Regions from separate parts of the Homo sapiens genome. Here region 2 is linked to region 1. A link means that fine-mapping ties the variant in region 1 to the expression of a gene that starts in the linked region. Tissue or cell type: whole blood. Region 1 holds a variant in brackets; the other region holds the start of a gene. All regions are shown on one strand. Distances are from middle to middle. Region 1 overlaps CLHC1 (clathrin heavy chain linker domain containing 1). Region 2 holds the start of CLHC1 (clathrin heavy chain linker domain containing 1).

Region 1 (12,295 bases):
TAAGACTAGCCTGGGCAACATAACAAGACCCTGTCTGTATTAAATAAATGAATAAATAAATAAATAAATAACCTGCTAGCCATTCACAAGTTTATGCTAATTTTACTTATGTTCAGTAAGCTATAAGTACATACTATCATTTCTAAATTGTTTCTTAACATAGTGAACTGTCTTTCTAAGACTTGCTCTTTGAGCACAAGCGTCCCACACATGGCTTGTCGTGTTTGATTTGTTCCCTTTCCCCATAGGCATGACTCTTCAAGAATCCATGAATCTAGATGCTCTCACTAAATACATGAAACATCTTGAAGATAAATATGCAGAAATTAAACAAGCTATGTTGATAAAATATGTGCCAGCTCAGAGGAAGGCTGATTTAGATGAAGAAATGATTGTGTTATTAAAACGGCGAGATGTAGCTGAAAATCTGAACAAAAAATTGCAGTTTTGGTATGGAAGTTGATTATATGTTTTTAAAGTTTGGAGTTTTATTTGTGTTTATTCTAATATTCCACCATTTGATTTTAGGCTCAGTGTGTTATTGACGTTTTTTATCTTTTTAGTCATCAAAGACTGCAGATAATTTCACAGGCACTTAGTTCATGGGTAAAATCTGATATGAGCAGCCCATTTCAAGACTTTGTGGAGCAAATTCAGAAAACCAAATATTTACAAGGTAGATTATCTATATTTTTAAATTAGTACCAATAATGGAAGACATTTTTTTCGCTAGCTAGTTAGAATGGGGTTTTCTTAGGCTGAGTTTAAATAAAGCAAGATCATACTTCAGCTGGTTGTCTGTTACGCTATGGGTTTCTTCCTTCAACAGCTAACAGATAATTAGTAAAGAATAGACTTGGTGAGCCAAAGACAGAATGCCTGAAAATGTACATCAAAATAAAGAGGAGGCCGGGCACGGTGGCTCATGCCTGTAATCCCAGCACTTTGGGAGGCTGAGACGGGCAGATCACGAGGTCAGAAGATCGAGACCATCCTGGGTAACACAGTGAAACCCCGTCTCTACTAAAAAAAATACAAAAAATTAGCCGGGTGTGGTTGCAGGCACCTGTAGTCCCAGCTACTCGGGAGGCTGAGGCAGGAGAATGGTGTGAACCCGGGAGGCGGAGCTTGCAGTGAGCCAAGATAGGGCCACTGCACTCCAGCCTGGGTGACAGAGCCAGACTCCGTCTCAAAAAAAAAAAAAAAAAAAAAAAGAGGAAAGGGACGGGGAGGCCACTAAGTTTAGGAAGAGGTTGCTGCTGTTAGGAGCCATAGCAATAAGCTGTTGGTATTAAACACATGTATGTTTATTGTTTTCTATTGGTAAGTAACCTTAAATATCTTCCAGTAGTACTTTCAATATTTACAGGTGACCAAGGCATTGTTGAAGAACTAATGGAAGATGATCCACGCAGGGCAAAAGAAGCTGAAATTATGCTTCACTACATTGAAAGGCAAATATTTTAAAAGCTTTAATTTTTCAGAATTATATTTTTTCATAGATTCTTTGTGAATAACATACCAGATTGGGAATCTAGGAGATTTTTCAGAGGAGATAAGAGGATTATAATGTTGATATGTTTTATTTATACAGGTTAAGCATTCCTAATCCAAAAATTTGAAATCTGAAATGCTCCAAAATCCGAAAAATTTTGAGCACTGACATGAGATAGTGATACCTCTGTTTTGTGATAGATCAATATGTACACAAATTTTGTTTCATGCACAAAATTATTAGAAATATTATATAAAATTGCCTTCAGGCTATGTGTATATGGTATATATGAAATATAAATTTTGTGTTTAGACTTGGATCCCATCCCCAAGATATCTCATTATGTACATGCATATATTCCAAAATATGAAAAAATCTGAAATCCAAAACACTTCTGGTCCCACGCATTTAGGATAAGGGAAACCCAGCCTGTATTTTTCTTACATTTCCTAGCTATCAACCTGATGTTACAAAATGTTTTTGAGAATGTCTTCCTGATTCAGATTATTCTAGCCAATTCAGTCCTTTCTTTCTCATTACTTCTATCCCCTGACTTATTAAGGAGGCATATTTCTCCCTAATACTTAAGTTATTATACATAGTATATAAGATTAAAGAGATTTAAGACTATATTCTTTTTTACTTTGTTTACTTTTTATCAAACATTACTTTCATCAAATATTTCAAGTATACATAAAAATACAGACAATAACATTAACAAAATGTTATTCTGTGTACCAACTTAGCAAGAAATTAACATTTTGCCGTATTTACTTCAGCTCTTTTTGTAGAAGTTTGTTACAGTTGACATCCTACTGTGTATCATTCCTGCTATCTTCAATTCCTTTTCCCTCCTTTTTTCCCCTCACAGTTGCTCCCCTGGTGTTTAACATGCAGGAGCATTTTTAAACATTTTTAATACATAGTAAGACTATATTCTTTAAGAGGTTAATTCATAGGCTATGACGCTTATCTGTAATGAACATATGTAATATTCCTGGTCTTTATATGTTAAACAGTTTTCAACTGTTAATTGGATTGTTGGTATGGTAAAAAGAAGGGGGTAAATATAATTTTGGGCAGAGCACAAAAGCTCATGTTATTTCCTTACACTGTAATGCTTCTGTAAGTCTGACAGTTTGATATGAGAGAAAAACCCTTGTTGAGATTGAAAGTTTTATGTATTTTGCTTAATATTACTTTAGTGGGTTTTCCGCCTGGGGCTCCACATTCATTTGCAACACTGTGTAACTTCTGTTTATCATAGTTTTATTAATTGTGAGGTAAGGACTGATTTGAAGACCTTTTGCCATAGGAAGAGGAGTAGAGGCTTAAGTTATCTTAACTATTATCTTTCCTTCTTGTGCTAATCTTCGATTGGGAACCTGTTGCCTGGCAGAACAACATAGGCTTCTGAATACCAAGGACACCTCTTGATCTCCAGTTTGGCAGCTTCATTTTTTTTTTTTTCAGACGGAGTCTCACTCTGTCGCCCAGGCTGGAGTGCAGTGGCACAATCTTGGCTCACTGCAACCTCTGCCTCCCGGGTTCAAGTGATTCTCCTGCTTCAGCCTCCTGAGCAGCTGGGACTACAGGCACATGCCACCACGCCTGGCTAATTTTTTTTTTTTTTTGTATTTTTAGTAGAGACAGGGTTTCACCATCTTAGCCAGGATGGTCTCGATCTCCTGACCTCGTGATCCCCCATCCTCGGTCTCCCAAAGTGCTGGGATTACAGGCATGAACCACCATGCCCGGCCCAATTTGGTAGGTTCTATCTTCAATTAATATTTCCTTTAGGCGATGTTTCTAAGCAGATTGCCCTTCTTTCCTCTGATGCCAGTACTTTTTCATGTGGAGATGATATGCAGGGAAAAAAATCTGAGTTCATAATAAATTCAAGTTCTTTCTTCCATCCTCTATGGCTTGCTGTAAGTGCTATAGGAATAAAGTTTAGGATCATGTTCAAAGTCAGCTAGCAGGTGGGAGTTTTATTCTGAGACTTAAAAAAAACCCAACAGAGTACTAGAGAAGGATTTCAAGGAACATCTTACAGTGTGAATGATTCTAGTTATAGTTTATTAGAATTCCTTTTTGTTTTTCCATATCGTTATGCCGCTATATTTAGTCTGTATTAAACATTTCTAATCAGTTTTTTCTCTTTTTCTTTGTGTCATTATAATGCATTTTAAAATGTGATGGCTATAGGTTTAATGAGTTAATCTCACTTGGTGAATATGAAAAGGCAGCTTGTTATGCAGCAAACAGTCCTAGAAGAATTCTTCGAAACATTGGTACAATGAATACATTTAAGGGTAAGCATTTCTCTCTGAACCTTATATATGTATGAAAATTTACTACTTTTTCTCTCATAAAATAGAAAAAGCATTAAACTGGGAGACTAAAGATCTAGGCCCCAGCCCTATCTCTACCATTTACTCAGTTTGCTTAGCAGTAACATTAGGGATTTGATTAGATTTTCTAAATTACATTATGAACGATTTTAAGTATACAGAAAAGTATGGAGAAACATTAACACCCATGTACTCACTATCAAGATTTAATAAATGTTAATACTTTGTCAAATTTGCTCCACATCCTTTTAAAACACAGCTTCCTTGTGGTAAATTGACATAATACAACAAATTGTACATATTAAAGTACACAATTTGGTAAGTTTTTTTTTTTTTGAGACAGAGTTTCATTCTTGTTGTCCAGGCTGGAGTGCAGTGCACAGTCTTGGCTCACTGCCACCTCTGCCTCCCAGGTTCAAACGATTCTCCCGTTTCAGCCTCCCGAGTAGCTGGGATTACAGGTGTGTGCCACCACACCCATCTAAATTTTTTGTATTTTTAGTTGAGACAGGGTTTCCCATGTTGGCCAGACTGGTTTCAAACTCCTAACCTCAGGCAATCCACCTGCTTTGGCCTCCCAAAGTACTGGAATTACAGGTGTGAACCATCGTGCCCAGCCCAATTTGGTAAGTTTTGACATATGCATACACCCATGAGATTATCACTCAAAAGTTCCCTCATGCCCCTCAGTATCCCTCTCTTCCTGCTACTTCCTAGTTCTCTCGCCCTAATTTATTTTACTTAGGATAATGGCGTTCAGTTTTATTTTATGGCTGAGTAGTATTCTGTGGTGTGTGTGTGTGTGTGCGTGTGTGTGTGTGTGTGTGTGT[A/GTA]TTTTCTTTATCCAATCATCCCTTGATGGACACTTAGGTTGATTCTCTGACTTTGCTATTGTGAATAGTGCTGTGATAAACATAATGAATGCAGGTGTCTTTTTCATATAATAGTTTATTTTCCTTTGGGTAGATACCCAGTAGCGGGATTGCTGGATTGAATGGTAGTTCTATTTTTAGCTCTTTGAGAAATTTCCATACTGTATTCCATAGAGATTGTACTAATTTACATTCCCACCAAAAATGTAAAAGCGTTCCCTTTTCTCCACATCCTCTCCAACATCTGTTGCCTTTTGACTTTTTATTAATAGCCATTCTGATTGGTGTAAGATGGTATCTCATTGTGATTTTGTAGTTCCCTGCTTTGTAGATTTCCCTGCTTTGGGCAGTATGGCCATTTTAACAATTTAACTATTTTTTTTAACCCATTAAACAGCCCAACTCCCCCACCCAACTCCCCTACTACCCTTCATAGCCTCTGGTAACCATCCTTCTACTGTGTTCATGAGTTCAATTGTTTTTATTTTTAACTCCACCAACAAGTGAGAACATGTGAAGTTTGTCCTTCAGTGCCTGGCTTATTTCACCTAACATAATGACCTCCGGTTCCATCCATGTTGTTGTAAATGATAGGATCTCATTCTTTTTTATGACTGAATAGTACTCCATTGCCTATACGTACCACATTTTCTTTCCATTTGTCTGTTGATGGACACTTAGGTTGCTTCCAAATCTTGGCTATTGTGAATAGCACTGCATTAATCATAGGATTGTTGATCATATGGTATAATCATAGGATTGCTGGATCATATGGTAACCCAAGTTTTCATTTTTTGAGGAACCTCCAAAGTGTTTTCCGTAGTGGTTGTACTAATTTACATTCCCACCAACAGTGTACAAGGGTTCCCTTTTCTCCACATTCTTGCCAGCATTTCTTATTGCCTGACTCTTGGATAAAAGCTACTGTTTTAAGTGGGCTGAGATGATATCTCATTGTAGTTTTGATTTGTATGTCTCTAATGATCAATGATGTGGAGCACATTTTCATATGCCTGGTTGCCATTTGTATGTCTTCTTTTGAGAAATGTCTATTCAAATCTTTTGCCTTTTCTTTTTTTGACAGAGTTTCCCTCTTGTTGCCCAGGCTGGAATGCAATGGCGTGATCTCGGCTCACCACAACCTCCGCCTCCCAGGTCCAAGTGATTCTCCTACCTTAAACTCCCTAGTAGCTGGGATTACAAGCATGCACCACCATGCCCAGCTAATTTTGTATTTTTAGAAGAGATGGGGTTTCATCATGTTGGTCAGGCTGGTCTCTAACTCCTGACCTTAGGTGATCCACCTGCCTTGGCCTCCCAAAGTGTTGGGATTACAGGTGTGAACCACCTCACCTGGCCATCTTTTGCCCATTTTTAATCAGATTATTAGATTTTTTTCCTATGGAGTTGTTTGAGCTCCTTATGTATTCTGGTTATGAACTCCTTGTTAGGTGGGTAGTTTGCAAATATTTTCTCCCATTCTGTGGGTTGTCTCTTCACTTCGTTGATTGTATCCTTTCTGTGCAGAAGCTTTTTACCTTGATGTGATCCCATTTGTCCATTTTTTTCTTCAATTGCCTGTGCTTATGGGGTATTATGCAAGAAATTTTTGCCGAGACCAATGTCCTGGAGAATTTCCCCAATGTTTTCTTGTATGGTTTCATAGTTTGAGGTCTTAGATTTAAATATTTAATCCATTTTGATTTGGTTTTTTCTATGACAAGAGATAGGGGCCTAGTTTCATTTTTCTGCATATGGATATCCAGTTTTCCCAGCACCATTTACTGAAGAGACTGTCTTTTCCCCAGTATATGTTCTTGTCACCTTTGTCAAAAGTGAGTTCACTTTAGGTATGTGCATTTGTTTCTGGGTTCTCTATTCTGTTCCATTGGACTGTGCATCTGTTTTTATTCCATTACCGTGCTGTTTTGGTTACTATAGCTCTGTAGTAGAATTTGAAGTTAGATAATGTGATTCCTCCAGTTTTGTTCTTTTTGCTTAGGATGGTTTTTGGCTATTCTGGGTCTTTTGTGGTTCCATATAAATTTGGGAGTTGATTCTTCTATTTCTGTGAAGAATTTCATGGTATTTTGATAGGGATTGCATTAAATCTGTAGATTGCTTTGGGTAGTATAGACATTTTAACAATACTGATTCTTCCAATCCATGAATATGGCATATGTTTCCATTTTTTGTGTGTCCTCTTCAGTTTCTTTCATCCGTGTTTTATAGTTTTAATTGTAGAGCTGTTTCAGTGCTTTGGTTAATTCTAGAGCTGTTTCAGTGCTTTGGTTAATTCTAGGTATTTAATTTGTGGCTATTATAAGCAGGATTACTTTTTTAAATTTCTTTTTCAGATTGTTTGTTGTTGGCATATAGAAATGCACTGATTTTTATATGTTGATTTTGTATCTTTCAACTTCACTGAGTTTATCAGTTCTAATAGTTTTTTTTTTTTTTTTTTGAGATGAGTCTCACTCTGTCACCCAGGCTGGAGTGCAGTGGTGCAATCTCAGCTCACTACAACCTCTGCCTCCCAGGTTCAAGTGATTCTCCTGCCTCAGCCTCCCGAGTCGCTGGGCCAACAGGTGTGCACCACCATGCCCAGCTAACTTTTTTGTATTATCAGTAGAGACGGAGTTTTGCCATGTTGGCCAGTCTGGTCTTGAACTCCTGACCTCAAGTGATCAGCCCGCCTTGACCTCCCAAAGTGTTGGGATTACAGGTGTTAGCCACCATGCTTGGCCTCTAATAGTTTTTTGGTGGAGTCTCTAGATTTTTTTCTTTTACTTTTTTTTTTTTTTTGAGACAGAGTCTCACTCTTGTCCCCCAGGCTGGAGTGCAATGGCGCGATCTCAGCTCACTGCAAACTCCGCCTCCTGGGTTCAAGCAATTCTCCTGCCTCAGCCTCCCGAGTACCTGGGATTACAGGCACCTGCCACCAGGCCCGGCTAATTTTTGTATTTTTAGTAGGGACAGGGTTTCTCCATGTTGATCAGGCTGATCTCGAACTCCTGACCTCAGGTGATCCGCACACCTCGGTCTCCCAAAGTGCTGGAATTACAGGCATGAGCCACCGCACCCAGCTAGGTTTTTTTTTTTTTTTCAAATATAAGATTACATCATCAGAAAACAAAGATAATTTAACTTCTTCCTTTCCAATTTGGATGCCCTTTATTTCTTTTTCTTGTCTGATTGCTTTAACTAGGACTTCCAGTACTGTGTTGAATACCAGTGGTGAAAGTGGGCATCTTTGTTGTGTTCCAGATCTTACAGGAAAGGCTTTCAGTTTCCTCCCATTCAGTGTGATTCTAGCTGTGGTTCTGTCATATATGGCTTTTATTAGTTGAGGTATATTCCTTCTATCCCCAGATTTTTTTCTGGTTTTTATCATGAAGAATGTTGAATTTTATTAAATGCTTTTTCAGCATCTCTTGAAATTATCATATGGTTTTTGTCCTTCATTCTGTTGATATAGGATACATTACATTGATTCATTTGTGTATGTTGAACCATCCTTACATCCCTAGGATAAATCCCACTTGGTTATGATGAATGATTTTTTTAATGTGTTATTGGGGTTTGCTAGTATTTTGTTGATGATTTTTGCATCAATGTTTATCAGAATTATTGACATGTAGTTTTCTTTTCTGATGTGTCTTTGTCTGGTTTTGGTATCAGGGTAATACTGGACTTGTAGAATGAGTTTAGAAGTATTTCCTCTGCCTCTATTTTTTGGAATAGCTTGAGTAGGATATGTATTAGTTCTTTTTTAGATGTTTGGTAGAGTCAGAAGTGAAGCCATCAGGTCCTGGGCTTTTCTTTTCAGGAAGACCTTATATTACAGCTTCAATCTCATTACTTATTGGTCTGTTCAGGTTTTGGATTTCTTCATGGTTCAATATTGGTGGGTTGTATGTGTCTTAAGAATTTATTCATTTCTTCTAGGTTTTCCAGTTTATTGGCATATAGTTGCTCATAGTAACCTATAAGGCTCCTTTGAATTTCTGTGGTATTGGTTGTAATGTCTCCTTTTTCATCTCTGATTTTATTTACTCAGGTCTTCTCTCTTTTTTTCTTACTTAGTTTGGCTAAGGATTTGTCAATTTTTTTTTTTTAAACTCTTCATTGATTTTTATAATTGTTTTCTTCATTTCAATTTCATTTATTTCTGCTCTGATCTTCATTGTTTCTTTTCATCTAAAAACTTTGGGTTTGGTTTACTCTTGCTTTTCTAGTTCTTTAAGATGCATCATTAGGGTGTTTATTTGAAGTTTTTCTTCTTTTTTGATGTAAGCACTTATAGCTATAAACTTTTTTCTTAGTACTGCTTTCATTGTTATCCTATAGGTTTTGGTATGTTGTGTTTCCATTATTGTTTGTTTCAAGAAATCTCTAAATTTCCTTGTTAATCTCTTCATTGACCTGTGTATGGTCAGTCAGGAGCGTATTGTTTAGTTTCCATATTTGTATGGTTTCCAAAATTCCTCTTCTTATTGATTTCTAGTTTTATTTCACTGTGATCAGAGAAGATGCTTGATATTATTTCAATTTTTTGAATGTTTTAATACTTGCTTTGTGGCCTAACATATGGTCTTTCCTTGAGAATGACCCATGTGCTAAGAAGAAGAATGTGTATTTTTCAGCTGTTGGGTGATACGTTCTGTAAACATCTATTAGATCCATTTTGTCTATAGTGCAGATCAAGTCTGATGATTCTGTGTTGATTTTCTGTCTGGATGATCTGTCCAGTGCTGAAAGTGAGGGTGTTGAATTCTCCAACTATTATTATATTGGGGTCTATTTCTCTCTTTAGCACTAATAATATTTGCTTTATGTATCTGGGTACTCCAGTGTTAGGGGCATATATATTTACAATTGTTATGTCCTCTTGTTGAATTGACCCCTTTATCATTATATAATGACTTTCTTTGTCTCTTTTTATAGTTTTTGTCTTGAAATCTATTTTGTCTACTTCTGCTCTTTTTTGGTTTCCATTTGAATGGAATATCTTTTTCCATTCCTGTGTTTTCAGTCTATATGTGTCTTTAAAGATGAAGTGTTTCTTGTAGGCAACAGATCATTGGGTCTTTTTTTTTTATCTACTCAGCCACTGTTTTTTTTTTTTTTTTTTTTAAGACAGTCTTTTTCTGTCACCCAGGCTTTAGTGCAGTGGTATGAACACAGCACACTGCAGTCTCAACCTCCTGGGCTCAAGTGATCCTACCATCTCACTCACCCTGTCAAGTAGCTGGGATCACAGGCATGCACCACCACACTTGGCTAATTTTTTAAATTTTTGTGGAGACAAGGTCTCACCATGTTGCCTGGGCTGATCTTGAACTCCTGGGTTCAGGTAATCCTCCTGCCTTGGCCTCCCAAAATGCTGAGATTACAGGTGTGAGCCACTGTGTCTGGCCCACTCTATGTCTTTTGATTGGAAAGTTTAGTCTGCTAACATTCACTTGATATTAAGTAAGGACTCACTCCTGTCATTTTGTTATTTTTTGGTTGTTTTATGGTCTTCTCTTCCTTCTTTCCTTCCTTCCTGTCTTTCTTTTAGTGAAGATGATTTTCTCTGGTGGTATGTTTGAATTTCTTGCTTTTTATTTTTTGAGTGTCCATTGTATGCTTTTTGATTTGAGGTTATCATGAGACTTGCAAATAATATCTTATAACCCATTATTATAAACTGATTACAACACTGATTGCATAAACAAATAAAAAACTAACAAGCAAAGAGAAAACTAATAAAAATTCTAGACTTTAACTTTGTCCCCTAGCTTTTTAATTTTTTGTTGTTTCTATCTATATCTTATTGTACTGTCAATGTCTTGAAAAGTTTTTGTAGTAATTATTTTTGATCAGTTCATCTTTTAGCCTTTCTACTTAAGATATGAGTAATTTACACACAATTACAGTGTTATAATACTGCCTTTTTTGTGTGAACTTACTATTAGCAGTGAGTTTTGTACCTTTAATTTCTTATTGTTCGTTAATATCCTTTTCTTTCTGATTGAAGTACTCCCCTCAGCATTTCTTTTTTTTTTTTTTTTTTTTTTTTTGAGATGGAGTCTCACTCTTTTGTCCAGGCTGGAGTGCAGTGGCATGATCTCAGCTCACTGCAACCTCCACCTCCTGGGTTCAAGCAAGTCTCCTGCCTCAGCCTCCCAAATAGATGGGACTACAGGTGCACCCTGCCACACCCAGCTAGTTTTTTGTATTTTAGTAGAGATGGGGTTTCACCATGTTGCCCAGGCTGGTTGTGAACTCCTGAACTCAGGCAGTCCTCCCACCTCGGTCTCCCAAAGTGCTGGGATTATAGGCATGAGCCACTGCACCTGGCCACCTCAGCATTTCTTAAGGGACAAGTATGATGTTGATGAAATCCCTCAGCTTGTTTGTCTGGGAGAGTCTTTATTTCTCCTTCGTGTTTGAAGGATATTTTTTGCCAGATATATTATTCTAGGGTAAATGTTTTTTTTCTTCAACATTTTAAACATGTCCTGCCACTCTCTCCTGGCCTGTGAGGTTTCCACTAAAATGTCTGCTGCCAGACATATTGGAACTCCATTGTATGTCATTTATTTTCTCTTGCTGCTTTTAGGATCTTTTCTTTATCCTTGACCTTTGGGAGTTTGATTATTAAATGCCTTGAGAGTCTTCTTTGGGTTAAATCTGCTTGCTGTTCTATAACCTTGTACTTGAATATTGATAGCTTTCTCTAGGTTTGGAAAGTTCTCTGGTATTATCCCTTTTTTTTGTTTTGGATTTTTTGAGACGGTGTCATGCTCTGTCACCCAGGCTCACGTGCAGTGGTGTGATCTCGGCTCACTGCAACCTCTGCCTCCTGGGTTCAAGCGATTCTCCTGGCTCAGCCTCCTGAATAGCTGAAACTACAGGTGTGCCACCATACCCAGCTAATTTTTGTATTTTTTAGTACAGACATGGTTTTGCCATGTTGGTCCAGCCAGTCTCAAACTCCTGACCTCAGGTGATCCACCCTCCTCAGCCTCCCAAAGTGTTGGGATTATAGGCGTGAGCCACCACACCCAGCCAGGTATTATCCCTTTGAATAAACTTTCTACCCCATCTCTGTCTTTCTACCTCCTCTTTAAGACCAATAACTCCTTGATTTGCACTTTTGAGGTTATTTTCTAGATCTTGAAGTTGTGCCTTATTCTTTTTTATTCTCTTTTCTTTTGTTTCCTCTCACTGTATATTTTCAGATAGTCTGGCTTCAAGATCACTAATCTGCTTGATTAATTCTGCTGCTGAGAGACTTTGATGCATTCTTCAGCATGTCAATTGCATTTTTCAACTCCAGAATTTATGCCTGTCTCTTTCTAATTATTTCAATCTCTTAGTTAAATTTTTCCGATAGGATTCTGGATTCCTTCTCTGTGTTATCTTAAATTTTGTTGAGTTTCCTCAAAACAGCTATTTTGAATTCTCTGCCTGAAAGGTTACATATCTTTGTCTTTCTAGGATTGGCCCTGTTACCTTATTTAGTTTGTTTGGTGAGGTCATGTTTTCCTGGTTGGTCTTGATGCTTGTGGCTGTTTATCTGTGTCTGG
Region 2 (15,516 bases), 25 kb before region 1:
TTGAATGGAAAGACTGGCAATATGGTAAAAGTGAATTGTTATTTATACATCACCGATTTCTTTCAAGTGTATGCTTTAGTTAAGAGGCTTATCAAGTGAACCAGCTTTCCCTGAATTGAGCTCCGAAGGAAGATAGGCTACCCCAGTCCTGCTTGAAACTAAACTGTCTTTTACTGTTAACAGTACAAATAAGTAATCATTCCTTTATAGGGATCCATCCTGAACAAACATTAAATTCCCAAGCGTTGTACAACAGACAGCAAGCATTCCACTGAAACACCCAGAGACTGAGGATGCATTTTGTTTTTTTTGGAAGCAGGGTTTTGTCCAGGCTGAAATGCAATGCATAATTAATTACAACTCCTGGGCTCAAGGGATCCTTTTGTCTCAGACTTCCCAGTAGGCAGGACCATAGGAGTCAGCCTACTTTTTTTTTTTTTTTTTTTTTTTTTACAGAGATGGGGGTCTTGCTATGGTGCCCAGGCTGCTCTTGAACTCCTGGACACTCAAGTGATCCTCCCAAAGCATAGGGATTACAGGCACCCCACAACAAAGAATTACCTGGCCCCAAATGTCTGTTGTGTTGAGGTCAAGAAATGGACAGAAACACAAACTGGCTTATATTTAGACAACTTACATTAAATATAACTTCTGCCAAAGTATAGGTAGTCTAAGAATTGAAAATATCAAGACCTTTACAAGTGGTTGGCACCTGGCAGGTATACAGAACCACTGGGTCACATAATCCCCAGAGGCAACATTCACACAGCGATAGCAGTAGCACTACTAAAAGGAAATGGTGTGACCATCAATTTGGTGCTTAAAAACCATTCTTTTTACTGCAATAAAACCCAACAATAAATGTTAGTTCATGTCTTTTATTAACTCATACAGTTACTTGTCTTCTGGTTTGTTGAAACAGTAAGTCAGACAACATTTGCCACAATAATGTCTGTCAAAGTGACTTGCCATAAACACCCCAGCACCACATTCATCAGAAGGGCACTCTCGACGAAGGCGACTAATTTTGCCATTCTCATCCACCTGAAAAGCACAAACCTGCTGTTAAGATAATTTTACAACACATTCTGAAGTCTAATTTAAGTGACTCAAAATATTTAAGCTTTTAACTGTGTAATACTGGTGGTTTTGGTGCTTACAAACCAAAGCACCCTAAATTCTCACCAGTTATCATTGCTACAATGAAAACATTCAGAAGTCTTGGGACTTTTGAACACTAAAGGCCAGCTTTGCAAGTGGTAGACAAAGGTAAAGACCTGAACCCAAACCCGACTTTAAACTCAGAACCCTATTACATAACTGATTTCAAATACCAAACAGGAAAAACCCCAGAAAGTCTGAATTTCTCATTTCCAGAATACCTCATTTAAACCAAAGTGGGATAATATTGGGTGTTTAAGTCCAAGAAAATATTGACAAGTACTATAAAGATTAAGTTTTCCAAATAAGCCAAGACTTTGCTGACATTCTGCCCTTTAACTGGCTCACCTTATAATATTTCAGGACAGCCAGCTTAACCTTCTTTCTCTTGTGCTTATTCTTCTTGGGAGTGGTGTAAGACTTCTTCTTCCTTTTCTTAGCACCACCACGAAGTCTCAACACAAGATGAAGAGTAGACTCCTGTTAATGGAAGAATGAAGCAAGCTTTCATGATTCCACTAAGAATGGGCACACCCAACATTATGCATTTTCTAATTAAAAGCAGTAGCAGCACACAATAACATTTGAGGGAATCTTGCAGCCCCCAAACCCAATAAAGTATCAGATTCTTAACTGACAGTTTATAGGGACATTAAAGAATGCATTACATTACACCATGGGATACAACTTGCAAAATTCATAATGGGAGAACTATAGCAGTGCTTCTCAAGTATCAGTATAGGAGTTACCTAAAAATCTACTGCTATTCGAATGCCATTTTCCCTTTTTGTGTGTCAAAATGTCCAGAATACACCACATGGAGTGGCTCACGTCTGTAATCCCAGCGCTGGGAGGCCACGGTGGGAAGATCACTTATGCCCAGGAGTTTGAGACCAGCCTGGGCATGGTGGCGGGTGCCTATAGTTCCAACTACAGGAGGCTGAGGTGGGAGGACCACCTGAGTCTGAGAGGTGGAGGTTGCAGTGACTGCGCCACTCACTCCACCCTAGGTGACAGAGTCAGAGCCTGTCTCAAAAAAAGTAAAATAAAAAATTTCCAAAATAACATTTTTTTTTTAAAAGAGGCTGCTCTTCCCCTAGACAGACCTTTTGAATATTGTAGTCAGACAAAGTACGTCCATCTTCCAGCTGCTTGCCAGCAAAGATCAGTCTCTGCTGATCAGGAGGAATTCCTAATGACAAAAAACAAAAATTAAGTCACAGCACACCAAGCCTGTGATGTGCTCCAGACTTATAAGGTAACACCCCTTAATCAAATACATGATACTAAAGGCTGACAATAAGCCCTTACTAGAGGTTAGGCATGGTTCTAAATCTTTACATGTCACATTTTACCGCATTTAATATTAGGGACAATACTTGGTTGTCTGCAGTGGCTGACACCTGTAATACCAATACTTTGGGAGGTCGAGGTGGGCAGATCACTTGATGTGAAAAGTTCAAAACCAGCCTGGCCAACAAGGTAAAACCCAGTCTCTACTAAAAATACAATAAATTAGCCAGGCATGGTGGTGCACGCCTGTAATCCCCACTAATAGGGAGGCTGAAGCACAAAAATCACTTGAACCCGGGAGGCGGAGGCTGCAGTAAGCCGGGACAAGCGAATGCACTCCAGCCTGGGCGACAGAGGAGACTCCATCTCACACAAAATAAATAAATAAGTGTCCAAATTCACGCAAGTGAAATACACCTCAAGGATTCCAATCTAGGTACTGTGCTCCCCGATCACCAATGTCTATTGTGTTATTCCACAAGTATTTCGCTTTGTCAATCTGACCCCTTCCCCCATCACCAAGAGCAGGTATGTCTAGCACCTACAGGTAGGCCGAAGTCTCCGCAGGTTAAGTTTTCTTAACTACAAAATACTACTTGCCTTCCTTATCCTGGATCTTGGCCTTTACATTTTCTATCGTATCCGAGGGTTCAACCTATGAGTGTTAAAGTGAAAGCATGTTGGTTACACATTAAGGAACTACAGCAGAACTCATTTAGTTTGACAATTACCACTGAACCGAACCAGCGACAGGGCTGAGACCTACTCGAGAGACCTATTACCCACCCAGTGGGCAACCTCCCAAGTCGGCTACCGGAAAGCACCTTCATCTCCCCAGCCCAGAGCGGGCGGCGGCCGCAGGGCCACACGTGCTCGCACCCGGCGGGCAGAGCGTCTCCTTCCCCACCGCAGCTCCTCCGTTTTAACTAACTAGCTGGAACCCCTCGAGAGGAGACAGGTCCAGCCTTTGGCCACCGAAAATCACCTCTAGGTCGTTGCTCAGCAAAAGGTACTCATTTCAAAGCTTAAGTTTTAGAACCCAAATTCGGAATCATGGTCTAAGACATGGAAAGCAGCGCCGGTCCTAAAATCCACCTCAGGACCTTATTCGGACCTTGGCTTCCTCATGACCACCCGGCCCGTACCTCGAGGGTGATGGTCTTCCCCGTAAGGGTTTTCACGAAAATCTGCATTTTGGTGGCGGCTCCACCTGAGGTTGAGGAAAAGGAAGAGACAGGTTAGGTCAGGGATCACAAGAGAAGGCACCATAGGGTGCTAACCCGAGAGCAGCCGAAGTGCAGACACCCACCGCAGATGGCGGATCGAAAAGGAAGAACGCCGCGCAGGCCCACGGGGTTTCCCGGAGCTCCCGCCGAAGGACCCACCCCTTAGGCGACCACACCAAATGCCTGACTGCCGTCCCAGCGACAATCCAACCCGGTGCCAGACTAGGACGTGAACTTCGTTTCTCCTCTCCCTAGCCTGGGCTTATTTCTCACTTTAGCCTTCGGAATGCTTTCGAAACTGTAGGTTTAAGCAACGTAAAAGATGTTTTAAAAAGGCTTTTCCCGTACAATCAACGTGGCTAAGAGAATTTTTAAAAGGAGGTCGAGGGGGGCCTCTTGGGGAAGAGGTAGGAAATGGAAGTGCATTCTGGGAACTGTAGTTCTCCACTGCTTTCTTCTACCTTGGACTACTTGTCCCAAGATGCAGTTCCACCTCCCAGATTCCCTAGTTACTATCTCTAAGCACTGAAGTCGGTGTTTGGAGAAAAGGACTCAGGTGAGGACTGGAGGTAGGATGAAGCGGAATAATGGTTTCCGGAGCGTGGGAACGGGCCGGAAGTGACTAGAGCAAATGTTAAGCGGGGGGCAAAGGGTGCGGGGCACGAAAGGTGTCCTTCACTCACTTCCAGAAGCGGTGATGGGCAGAGAATCAGCAATCTACCAGACGCTCCTTGGGCCTTCAAGGGAAGGGAATTTGCGTGGCCTGCTCCAGGCAAACTGAAAAATAGGTGAAATCTGCGGAAGCGGGGGTTCAGCCCTTTCTCTCCTGTAGCGCCTCCCTGCTTTCAACCGCCGAGTCTCTCCCAGCCTAGGGAAGAGTCTGGGTCTTGTGTGTCACTCCTTAGTGTGACACGCTTTAATATGTTGAAAAATCTCAGGAGTTTTCAAATTTTAAAGTGAAGCCGTACGGAAAAGAAACCTGCAGAATGGTTATTTAGTTGTAGAATTTCCAAATTTGGGCATTGGGAGTCTTGGATCTGAGAGGAAGTTTTTGGAGTATGTATGGGGTGCTTCTTCCGGCAAGGAGGCCAATTAGAAGCAAGTTCTCCCTGTCCTTTCTCCACTCCACAAACCAGAGTCCTTTCTAATGTCTTCTGTATTTATTTCTTCATCCTCTGCCCTCTGCGACCCCATCCCCAAATTCAGACCTTAATTTTCTCTTGTAGGGGTTCCGAATCTAACTCCTTATCTCTCTCCAGTCTTTCCTCCTTTCTAACCCACCTTCACTATTGCCTCCAAAATATTCATTCTGAAAGGTAAATGTGTGTTATTATTTTATACCTCACCTTCAGGATACAATTCAAATTTCTTAGAATGACATTCAGCCTCTGCCTTCCTTACAACCTAATCTGCTAAACCCATTACTCTACATTTTAGTAAATGAAGCTAATTTAATTTCCTGACCTATGCCCTCCCGTGTTTTGGCATTTCTGAAGAATCCAGTCGTTTATTCTTCCTGGAACTTTTTTTTTTTTTTTTCGTGAGACGGAATTTCGCTCTGTTGCCCAGGCTGGAGTGCAGTGGCGCGGTCTCGGCTCACTGTAAACTCCGCCTCCCAGGTTCAAGCAATTCTTCTGCCTCAGCCTCCCGAGTAGCTGGGATTACAGGCGCCCACCACCACACCCGGCTAATTTTTGTATTTTTAGTAGAGATGGGGTTTCACCATGTTGGCCAGGCTGTTCTCTAGCTCCTGACCTCAAATGATCCATCCTCCTTGGCCTCCCAAAGTGGTGAGATTACAGGCGTGAGCCACCACGCCCTGCCTCCTGGAACATTTTTCATCCCCTAGTCCGCCAACTAGTCTCTACAACAAAATTTCCTAGAGTTGCTTGTACATATTGTCTCTAATCTTTCCCTTCCGTTGTCTGAACCCACTCCTGTCAGGCTTTTGTCCCCACCATTCTGATCGGATAGCTCTTGTAATGGTCACTAATGACCTCCATGTTGCTAAATTCAATGGTCATTTCATCTTATTTGATCTGTCAGCAGTATTTGACACAGTTGCTCATTCCATCTCTCTTTGAAAACCTTTCAAAGACTTCACCTCTCAGTTTTTCTGCCACCCTGGAGGCTCTTTTCCAGGCTCATTTGCTGCTTCCTCTTGATCTGCAAGACCTCTAACCATGGAGTATCCCCAAGGCCCAGTCCTTGGACCTCTGCTTTGTCTGCATTTTCTTGGTTATCTCATTTTTGTTTAATAACTTTTAAAGTATCATCATATGCAAATGACTCATAAACTTATCTGTCAGACCAGATATGTCACAGATATGTCACAACTTCATCTTCACATATCCAGCTATCTACTCAACATCTCTAATGGACAGGCCCCAAACACTTAATCTCATGAAATTGCTCTTCCCATGTTTATATATGGCAATTCCCATTTCTCCAGTCACTAAGGCCAAAAACTTTATGATTATCCTTGACTGTTCTTTTATATCCCACATCTTATCTACCTTGGCAGATCTTGGCTTTATTTTCAAAATATATGCAGAACACTTCCTACCACCTCCATTGTTAGCACCCTGATTCAAGCCACCATCATCTTTTGCCTTGATTATTGCAGTAGCTTCGTAACAGCACTTCCAGCTTTGACCCTTGCGTCCTATAATCTGTTTTCCACAGAGCAACAAGAACAATTCTTTTTTTTCTTTTTTTTGAGATGGAGTTTCGCTGTTGTTGCCCAGGCTGGAGTGCAATGGCACAATCTTGGCTCACCGCAAACTCTGCTTCCCGGGTTAGGTGATTCTCCTGCCTCAGCCTCTCCAGTAGCTGGGATTACAGGCATGCGCCACCACGCCCAGCTAATTTTGTATTTTTAGCAGAGACAGGGTTTTTCCATGTTGGTCAGGCTGGTCTGGAACTCCCGACGTCAGGTGATCTGCCCGCCTTGGCCTCCCAGAGTGCTGGGATTACAGGCATGAGCCACCATGCCTGGCCAAGAACAATTCTTTAAAATGTTAAGTCAGCTCTCCCACTCTTCTGCACACAGGCCTCTAAAGGCTTCGAATCTCACTCAGAGGAAAGCCTAAATTCTTACAAGTGAGGCTGTTGCTCCAGTGCTGGAACAAGTAGAGGCCACAGTCCAGTGTTGCTCCTCTTGCCAAGTCTGCCCAGAGAAAGGGACCTCTTTTTCTAAACCGCACAAAGGTACCCCCTAGGCTGATAGTAGTTCTGCCCTCAAGACCCTACATGCTACATAATCTGGCAGTTACCTCTCTGATCTCATCTCTTCTCTCCCTTTCTCATTCTCTTCTAGCCCCACGGGCCCTCTAGCTGTTCCTCAAATGTGTTGTCCCACCCTGAGGCCTTTGGACTGGCTACTCTCTTTGCCTCAACCACTCATCTCCCAGGAATCTACATGACCTGCTATTTTCAGATTTCTGAAATGTCACCTTATCAGTAAGCTCTTTTGTCTTTCCTGACTTACTGCCCTTATAGAAAATGGTATCCTCCCACCTTCCTTACTCTCTATCCCCCATACCTTGTTTTATTTTTCTTCATACAACTTAACCCCTATCTGTCATACTATATTTCTATATATATATAATTTTTTTCTTTCTTTTTTTTTTTTTTTTTTTGAGACAGAATCTCCCTCTGTCGCCCAGGCTGGATTGCAGTGGTATGATCTTAGCCCACTGCAACCTCCACCTCTCTGGTCCAAATGATTCTCATACCTCAGCCACCTAAGTAGCTGGGATTATAGGTGTGAGCCCCTGCGCCCAGCTAATTTTTATATTCTTTAATAGAGACTGGGTTTTGCCATGTTGGCCAGACTGATCTCAAACTCCTAACCTCAAGTGATCCACCTGCCTCGGCTTTCCAAAGTGCTGGGATTACAGGCATGAGCCGCTGTGCCTGGACTATTTTTTTTCTTGTGTGTTGTCTGTTTCTACATGAATGTAACCTTTGTGAGATTAGGGACTTTGTTTTGTTCAATACTGTGTCTCCATTGTCTAGAATAATGGCAGACAAACAATAGGTGTCCCCCAAATATTGAATAAATAAATGTAGCACAACTTAAGCATTGCCCTAGATTTTGTTTTACTAGATGTTTTCCCTAATGTTTCCTTGCCCCCTTCCGTAGGCTGATGAGATGCCCCTCTGGCCTTCTGTAGCCTATTGTGCTTACCTCTGTCACACTGCCTTTTCTGCTTTGTAGCAGTGGCTCATTTACTAGACCTGGAACACTTGACTGGGAACCCTTGTGACTTGTCAACACATCCCTAAATGTCTAATATGAATGAATGAATGAATGAATGGTAATCTTGGTTGGTTTATGTAACTCAATGGCATTTTGTAGATGTTAAGGAACAATCCCTTTAGCTGTGTTCTGGTTTGAGAGCACCACAAGTCCAATGTCTTATGAATAGACTAGATTATTGTTCAGTGATTATTGATTATTCAGCAAACATATGTTTGAGTACTGCTCTGCTAGAAACTGCATTATGCACTTGAATGCATATGGTAGAGGAGGGATGATGGGGAAAGAGAACATTTTGTTTCCTGATCTTGTCACGCTTACAGCCTAACAGATGAGACAGAATATAAACAGGAAGTCTCTAAGGCAGTGTGGTGGAAGGATAATACCATGATGGAGGAAGTGCACAGTATTATGGGAGAACATAGCAGTGGCATCTGACCAATTTTAAGGGAATCCAGGACAGCTTTCCTGAAGCTGAAGAAAGAGTAAAAGCCAGGTGAATCAAAGTGATAGTATGTATGTGTTTTGGGGGTTGGGGGTAATATAGGAGGATGGTCTGCAGGGAGGGGGAGAGAATTATGTAAGATCCTAAGGTAAGAGAGGAAGTTCATGGGTGTGGGAATGGGGATATGGGGCAAAGGACAGGGACATGAAGAGAGTAAATTTGGTCAAAGAAAAAGAGTCATTAGTTTCTGAAGGGCACTAATAGGCCAAGTAAAGGAACTTGGATTTTATCCTAAGGGTAATACGGTAGGAAGCCACTGGTGTCCAAATGTCACTACCCCCTCTCTAATGATAACACCCGTTTCTTCCTCTTTTGACTTTTATCTTTTACTTTTTTTTTTTTTTTGAGATGGAGTCTTGCTCTATTGCCCAGGCTGGAGTGCAGTGGCTCAATCTCGGCTCACTGCAACCTCCACCTCCTGGGTTCAAGTGATTCTCCTGCCTCAGCCTCCTGAGTAGCTGGGATTATAGGCGTGTGCCACCACTCCCAGCTAATTTTTGTATTTTTAGTAGAGATGTGGTTTCACCATGTTGGTCAGACTGGTCTTGAACTCCTGATCTCGTGATCTGCCTGCCTCGGCCTCCCAAAGTGCTGGGATTATAGGCGTGAGCCACCGCGCCTGGTTATCTTTTACTATTTGAAATTATTTATTTATAGTTTGTCTCCCCTACTAGATCATAAGCTTCAAGGAGCCAGGGACCTTATCTTACTTATTGCCGAATTCCTAGCTGTGAAATGGTGCCTGGTGCTTTGTTGACACTCAATAAATACTGACTGAATGAATGAATAAACAAATGTATTTCTCATTTAGGAAAACTTGATTAATTAATGAGTTATTCCCTTGCTGGAACTACTTTATATTAATTCATAAATTGACTTTTTGCTATCCAGTTCATCAACATGAAGATAATTTTGGCCTTTTAATCTTCAGAATTATTTTGGTGTCTCCTCTTCTGTATATGGCTATGGGCAGTATTTACAGGCTGTATATGTTATTCACATAATCAGGTATCAGTTATATTGCCAGAACATGATACAATTGATTGAGACACTTACTTATCATGGCATTGTTTATATTAGTGAAAATAGCAGCCAGGTGCAGTGGCTCATGCCTGTAATCCCAGCACTTTGGGAGGCCAAAGCAGGCTGATCACTTGAGGCCAGGAGTTCAAGATCAGCCTGGCCAACAGGGTGAAACCCCATCTCTACTAAAATTACAAAAAATTACCCAGACATGGTGCCCTGCACCTCTAGTTTCAGCTACTCGGGAGGCTAAGGCAGGAGAATCACTTGAATTCAGAAAGTGAAGGTTGCAGTGAGCTGAGATCGTGCCACTGCACTCCAGCCTGGGCGACAGAGCAAGACTGTCTCAAAACAAAACAAAAATAGTGAAAATATCTGACAATGGGGGAATAAATTAATGGAACATCATACTATGAAATACTGTGTAAGCTTTAGAAGTCATGTTTTAAAAAACGATTTAACAACATGAAAAAGTGCTTTTAATATTAAGTGAAAAAAATGGGATGCACAACTGAATATAGAGTTTAATTTCAAGTTTTGTAATGTTTGGAAGGAAATATTCCAAAATATTAAATAGATATTTATTTCATTAATTTTGTCTGGTTTATATTTTCCGAATTTTATACCAGGAGTATGCTTCTGTAATTAGGGAAAAAGTTACGATGTTGCCTTGCCAGCCATTATTAAGCAAGCCAAGAGTTCTGTTTGAAGTTAATGTGACTAAATCTTAGGCACCAACTTCTGTATCCAACTTCAGTTGGACAATTTTTTTTTTTTCAGTAAAAACTCTTTCTCTTTTTTTTTTTTTGAAATGGAGTCTCGCTCAGTTGCCCAGGCTGGAGTGCAGTGGTGCGATCTTGGCTCACTGCAACCTCCGCCTCCCGGGTTCACGCCACTCTCCTGCCTCAGCCTCCTGAGTAGCTGGGACTACAGGCGCCCGCCACCACACCCGGCTAATTTTTTTGTACTTTTAGTAGAGACGGGGTTTTACCATGTTAGCCAGATGGTCTCGATCTCCTGACCTCGTGAACCGCCCGCCTCGGCCTCCCAAAATGCTGGGACTACAGGCGTGAGCTACCGCTCCCGGCCTTTCAGTAAAAATTCTTTATTCATTCCTTCATCACGTGACAGTTGGCCTTGAGTACTTACAAAGACAGCAGTTCCTGCCTCTCAGAAATCTAAGCAGACATTCCAGAGCTCACAGATCAGTGCCCCACCAACTGCTACCTGGAAGCTTCAGGGAGATGGGGAGCCTGGAGGAGGGGATGCTGCAGGAACCCCCTGGCACGCAGTGGGGCTGGGCTTCGAAGGCATCCAGGACTGAATTCGAGGTGGCAGGGGGCAAGCAGGCAGGCAGCGTGACGGTCATGAGGTGCGGGGTGAGGGCAGGAAGCCCACAGCATTCCTGACTTGGGGTCAGGGGAGACAGATTGGAGGGGCCCGAGATGAAGCCAGAGCTTACAGAGAGGCTGTAAGCCAGCACTCAGCTTCCCGGGAGACCCCAACCACTGCCGGGTCCAGAGTGCCCTGGGAGAATGTCAGGTACCCAGATGTTTCAGTGGAAGATTCCTTTTTCAAACATTAGCTGGTTCTTTGGATTTTTAATTATAAACATAGTACATGATCAAGGTTAAACCATTTTCCAAGCATCACATAAGGATGGGAAGTAATTCTATCCCGCTCTAGACCTTCCAGATTGGCTCCAGAAGGCAGCTGCTGTCAGTGATTTTCCTTACAGACCATTGCAGCCACCTACCTTGCGCCATGGTCCCGAGACAGCATGGCGTCTTCCCCCACACGGACCTGCAGGTGGCCTCTTAGGAGCTTTCTCGCTGAAGGAGGTCATCCCTCTTAGTCACATCTGAGCAGCACTCACTTAGGCCTCGGCCCCGAGGGTCATGCGGGGGCACCTGGCCGGGTTCCCGGCTCTGTCTGGTCTGGCATCTGTCTGCCTTTGGGCTACCTTTTCGGCACAGCTCCCTGGGCCTGTGGCTGCTACAAGCTGGACTCCAGCTCCCCTGGGCTGCAGTGCTGCTCGCAGTGGTCCAGAAAAGAGGCTGGGCACAGCGGCTCCTGGCTCAGCAGCATCCTTGGCGCAGGCTGGCCCAGGAGCTCCGTGCAGGGTGCTGCCAGTTGACCCAGCCCCGGCTGCACTCAATGTCCGAGAACCGGGCTGGCTGGGGGGCCTCTTTGACGGAGCTTTACTCCAAGTCTTGCTGAATTTCCTGAGGAAAAGCACTGATGTTCTCATGGACACAAGGGAGGCAGAATCTCTTGAAGTAGAATAAACTGCACTCCTTTCCAGTCTTCCTTTCTCAGCTTCTCCTGGACCGCCAGCTCCTCCATGCGCCTCAGACACTCCCAACGCCGCACTGCGGGGGTTCCTCCCGCCCTGGCCCATCTCATCCCCCTTGGCTGTTGATACAGCTCCCCTGTGTGCATGTCGCCCTGTGGCAGATGCTCAGGGACTTCTCAGACTCCAGGATCACTCCGAGTACACTGGCCACACAGCCTGCTGCACAAACTGCAGCGCCAGCTAAGGACCAGGAATCTGACATTGTCGGAGGTGAAGGGATCCTTTGTGACATAGCTTTCCTCCAGGAGGACCATCCACTGGGTGTCGGGGGAGCTTCTGCCCCAAGTAGCAGGAGGGAGCTGTCAAGGCGTGGAGTTCACACTCAAACACTCCCAGAGGACGGCACTCTGCATGGGACGCCATCCAGCTCCTTTGACTGTGGAATCAAGTACATTATCAGCTGGCCCCTGGCTCCTGGCTGTGACCTCCCTTCGCTTGAACTGAGCCTTGTGTGTAAGGGCGTATCAAGTTGTATGGGCTTCGCCGCTGGGTGACCCCAAATGCAACTCCAGGAAGCATGGGTTACCAATGACTTTAAGGTTAACGATCAGCTGGGCGCGGTGGCTGACGCCTGTAATCCCAGCACTTTGGGAGGTCGAGGCGAATGGATCACGAGGTCAGGAGTTCAAGACCAGCCTGGCCAACATGGTGAAACCCCCATCTCTACTAAAAATACAAAAATTAGCCGGGCGTGGTGGCGGGCGCCTGTAGTCCCAGCTACTCAAGAGGCTGAGGCAGGAGAATCGCGTGAACTCGGGAGGCGGAGCTTGCAGTGAGCTGAGATCTCGCCGCTGCACTCCAGCCTGGGCGGCAGAGCGAGACTCCGTCTCAAAAAAAAAAAAAAGTTACGATCCGATCGCGGGTGTGCGTGAACCTGACCCTGCTTCTCTTCTGAACACCGGGGCGTCCTAGGCCCCTGCCGAGGCTCCTGGGGGCGGTGCCTGTGAGCAGGGACCGCTGAGCGGGTCCGGGGGCGCCAGTGGTCCCCGCGAGCCTCCGCGCGCCCTCCCTCGCCCCAGAGCCGTCTGAGGTCGGGGGAACCGTCCCCCGAGGCCGACACGCCGCTCCTCCATCCGGTCCCCAAAGCCGAGAGCGGTCGCGCCGACCCTTGGCGCTCGGAGCACAGCAGGCCACGCCGGCGCGGAACTCAGTCCCGGCGAGCGGGAGGTGCCCTGAGGCTGCGCGGGGCCGGCCCACAGCGCGCTCGCCCCCGCCAGGCCGCCGCCGCCCATGATTCTTTACTGAAAGCGGCATAATGCGGCTGCTTGAAAGCTATACTCTGAAAAATACTGTTACTTTTGACATCATTGAGGGATGGATTTTAGCAGAAGTCCGGACCTCTTTTTGCTTGGTACTTTAATATTAAAGATGAGAATTAAAATAAAGTTTATTATAAAAATAAATACATTATTTATTGCTATTGTGTGCTGGGTGAAGCTAGGCCAGATAAGCGCCGGGGTCGTAAAATAGTTGACCTTGTTTGTGTCAAGAGGCTTACAAATTAGTTTTCCCACATGACACAAATAAATATAAAATACCAAACCTTCTATTAGAAAGTGTGAATTATACATAAGAAACCATCGATTATATGATACATGTGAGAGGAGTTGTGCATAGTTAGCAAGAGAAGAGCTCTTCATTGACTGGTGTTTGGTATTTCTGTCCCAGAGCAGCAGCATATGGCAGTGGAATAGCATAGACTTTTTTTTTTTTTTTTTTTTTTTTGAGACAGTTTCGCTCTTGTTGCCCAGGCTGGAGTGCAATGGCGCGATCTCGGCTCACCGCAACTCCGCCTCCGGGGTTCAAGCGATCCTCCTGCCTCAGCCTCCCGAGTAGCTGGGATTACAGGCATGCGCCACCACGCCTGGCTAATTTTGTCTTTTTTAGTAGAGACGGGGTTTCTCCATGTTGGTCAGGCTGGTCTCGAACTCCCGGACCTCAGATGATCCACCTGCCTCGGCCTCCCAAAGAGCTGGGATTACAGGCATGAGCCACCACGCTTGGCAGCATAGACCTTTTAATACATAGGTTGAAGTATTTATCACAGAGACAGATAGGAAATTTTTTTCTAAAAAAAATACATTTTTAGATCAATATTTGACTTAAGTTAAAAAATTATTATATTAATTGATGCTCTTTTTTTCTTTCAGGCTTATCAAAGTTTTGGCTTTGTTGCAAGAGCAGGTCAAGATTTAGCTGTTCTTCAGTGAACAAGTGTGCAGATTGTCAAATATGTCAGTTCATCAAATAAGAAAACATGCAGTTCTCCCACCTATCATTTGTAGAAGTGACAAGGAATTTTTGGAAAGTGTGCAAAGATACATAATTACAGAAACTGAAAGACTGGGCTGTAGTGAGGAAGGACCTGCTGATGAATATTACATCATATACCGAAATGTTTTTGATAAGGTATCATAAAGCTTTTAAGACAATTAAGTTTTCATGAGGATAGCAATGATCTATGTTGACAACCAATATTCCTGCCTTAGTAACACCACTGTTTGAATGATAACATTCCATTTGCTGATTTTGAGAAGTTCATCCAATTTCTCAGAAAGGCATGAATGGGAAAAATGCAATTCTGGATTTGTATTTCCTGACTGTGAATGAGTGTTTCAGTTATTTTAGCTTGAGAGCAGATTATAAGTTTCCTTTATATATTTTTTAAAGAGAGAGTCTCACTGTATCACCCAGGCTGGAGTGCAGTGGCACACTCATATCTCACTGCAGCCTCAAACTCCTGGGTTCAAGTTATCCTCTTGCCTCAGCCTCCTGTATAGCTGGGACTACAGACTTGTGCCACCACTCCTGACTAATTTTTAAAATTTTTTGTAGAGACAAGGTCTCTGTGTTGCCTAGGCTGGTCTTGCACTCCTGGCCTCAAGCAATCCTCCTATCTTGGCCTCCCAAAGTGCTGGGATTACAAGCATGAACTACCAGTGCCTAGCCCAGACTATCAGTTTTTGATCAACTACCTGGCTGTATGTACCCTCTGATAATAATTTTCACCTTTTCATCTAAAAGTATCATCTGATTTGTTAGGAATTGGGCTGCAAGCAGAAACATGATACTTCCTTGTTATTTTGAGTTTGTTTGTGGTATCATTAAAATCTTGGTTTAGATTTGATCTAACATTAAATTGAGGTTCCTTGTAGATTGGAGTTCTATCTAGAATTATCTAGTCATGGTTTACAAGGAATTAGACTGGAATTAATATTGGAAATAGGGAGATCAGCTTAGAAAATGCTCTGACTTTGTGGAACATATTTGATTTTGCTTTTTACGGTTTTAGAAATACCTATTATCCTTCTAAACAATTGCAGTTTGCCCACCAATCCTAATTTATTTATGCAGCTTTTTTTTTCCACCCCATCCCCGGAAGATGCCTTGACAGTGAAATAAGTGAAATCAGCATCTTTCCTCTTTGCCACAGGAAGTACTTACCTTAAGGCTTCAGTAAACTGTTGGTCTCTGAGAAAACAGTCACAGGCAAAATAGAAACTCAGTCTTTTAATTTTTAAACATTACACACTATGACTCTTATTTCTCCTCTAAATAAAAACCTAGTGCCTCACTCTAAGAGAAAGTGAGGTTCAGATAGTGATATATACCTACCAGTAGAATAAGGAAAGTTGATACGTATTCATAGGAGTATAAAATAGAGAAACAGGGTCTTTCCTTCTTTTTA

The links. PIP is the estimated chance that this variant, and not a neighbour inherited with it, causes the effect.
Region 2: it holds the start of CLHC1, and the variant in region 1 is the best candidate, but not a certain one, in a credible set for the expression of CLHC1 in whole blood (INTERVAL, PIP 0.57).

Annotation. Positions count from the first base shown.
Region 1 is chr2:55,197,785-55,210,079 of GRCh38, reverse strand. CLHC1 (clathrin heavy chain linker domain containing 1) reads left to right here. Exons shown (of 13, transcript NM_152385.4): 6 at 249-450; 7 at 564-676; 8 at 1,370-1,454; 9 at 3,704-3,810. Among named protein-coding and RNA genes, the nearest start is that of CLHC1, 28 kb to the left of the region's middle. The variant A/GTA (reference allele first, on the strand shown) is at 4,680.
Region 2 is chr2:55,220,956-55,236,471 of GRCh38, reverse strand. It overlaps CLHC1 (clathrin heavy chain linker domain containing 1), which reads left to right and starts at 4,179. Exons shown (of 13, transcript NM_152385.4): 1 at 4,179-4,249; 2 at 8,268-8,440; 3 at 13,979-14,237. The coding sequence starts at 14,061. It overlaps RPS27A (ribosomal protein S27a), which reads right to left and starts at 3,784. Exons shown (of 6, transcript NM_002954.6): 1 at 3,764-3,784; 2 at 3,600-3,664; 3 at 3,055-3,109; 4 at 2,268-2,353; 5 at 1,510-1,641; 6 at 619-1,044. The coding sequence starts at 3,647. The coding sequence ends at 895. It also overlaps the pseudogene CDPF1P1. RefSeq lists enhancers at 3,505-3,684, 3,705-4,134 and a silencer at 12,694-13,073.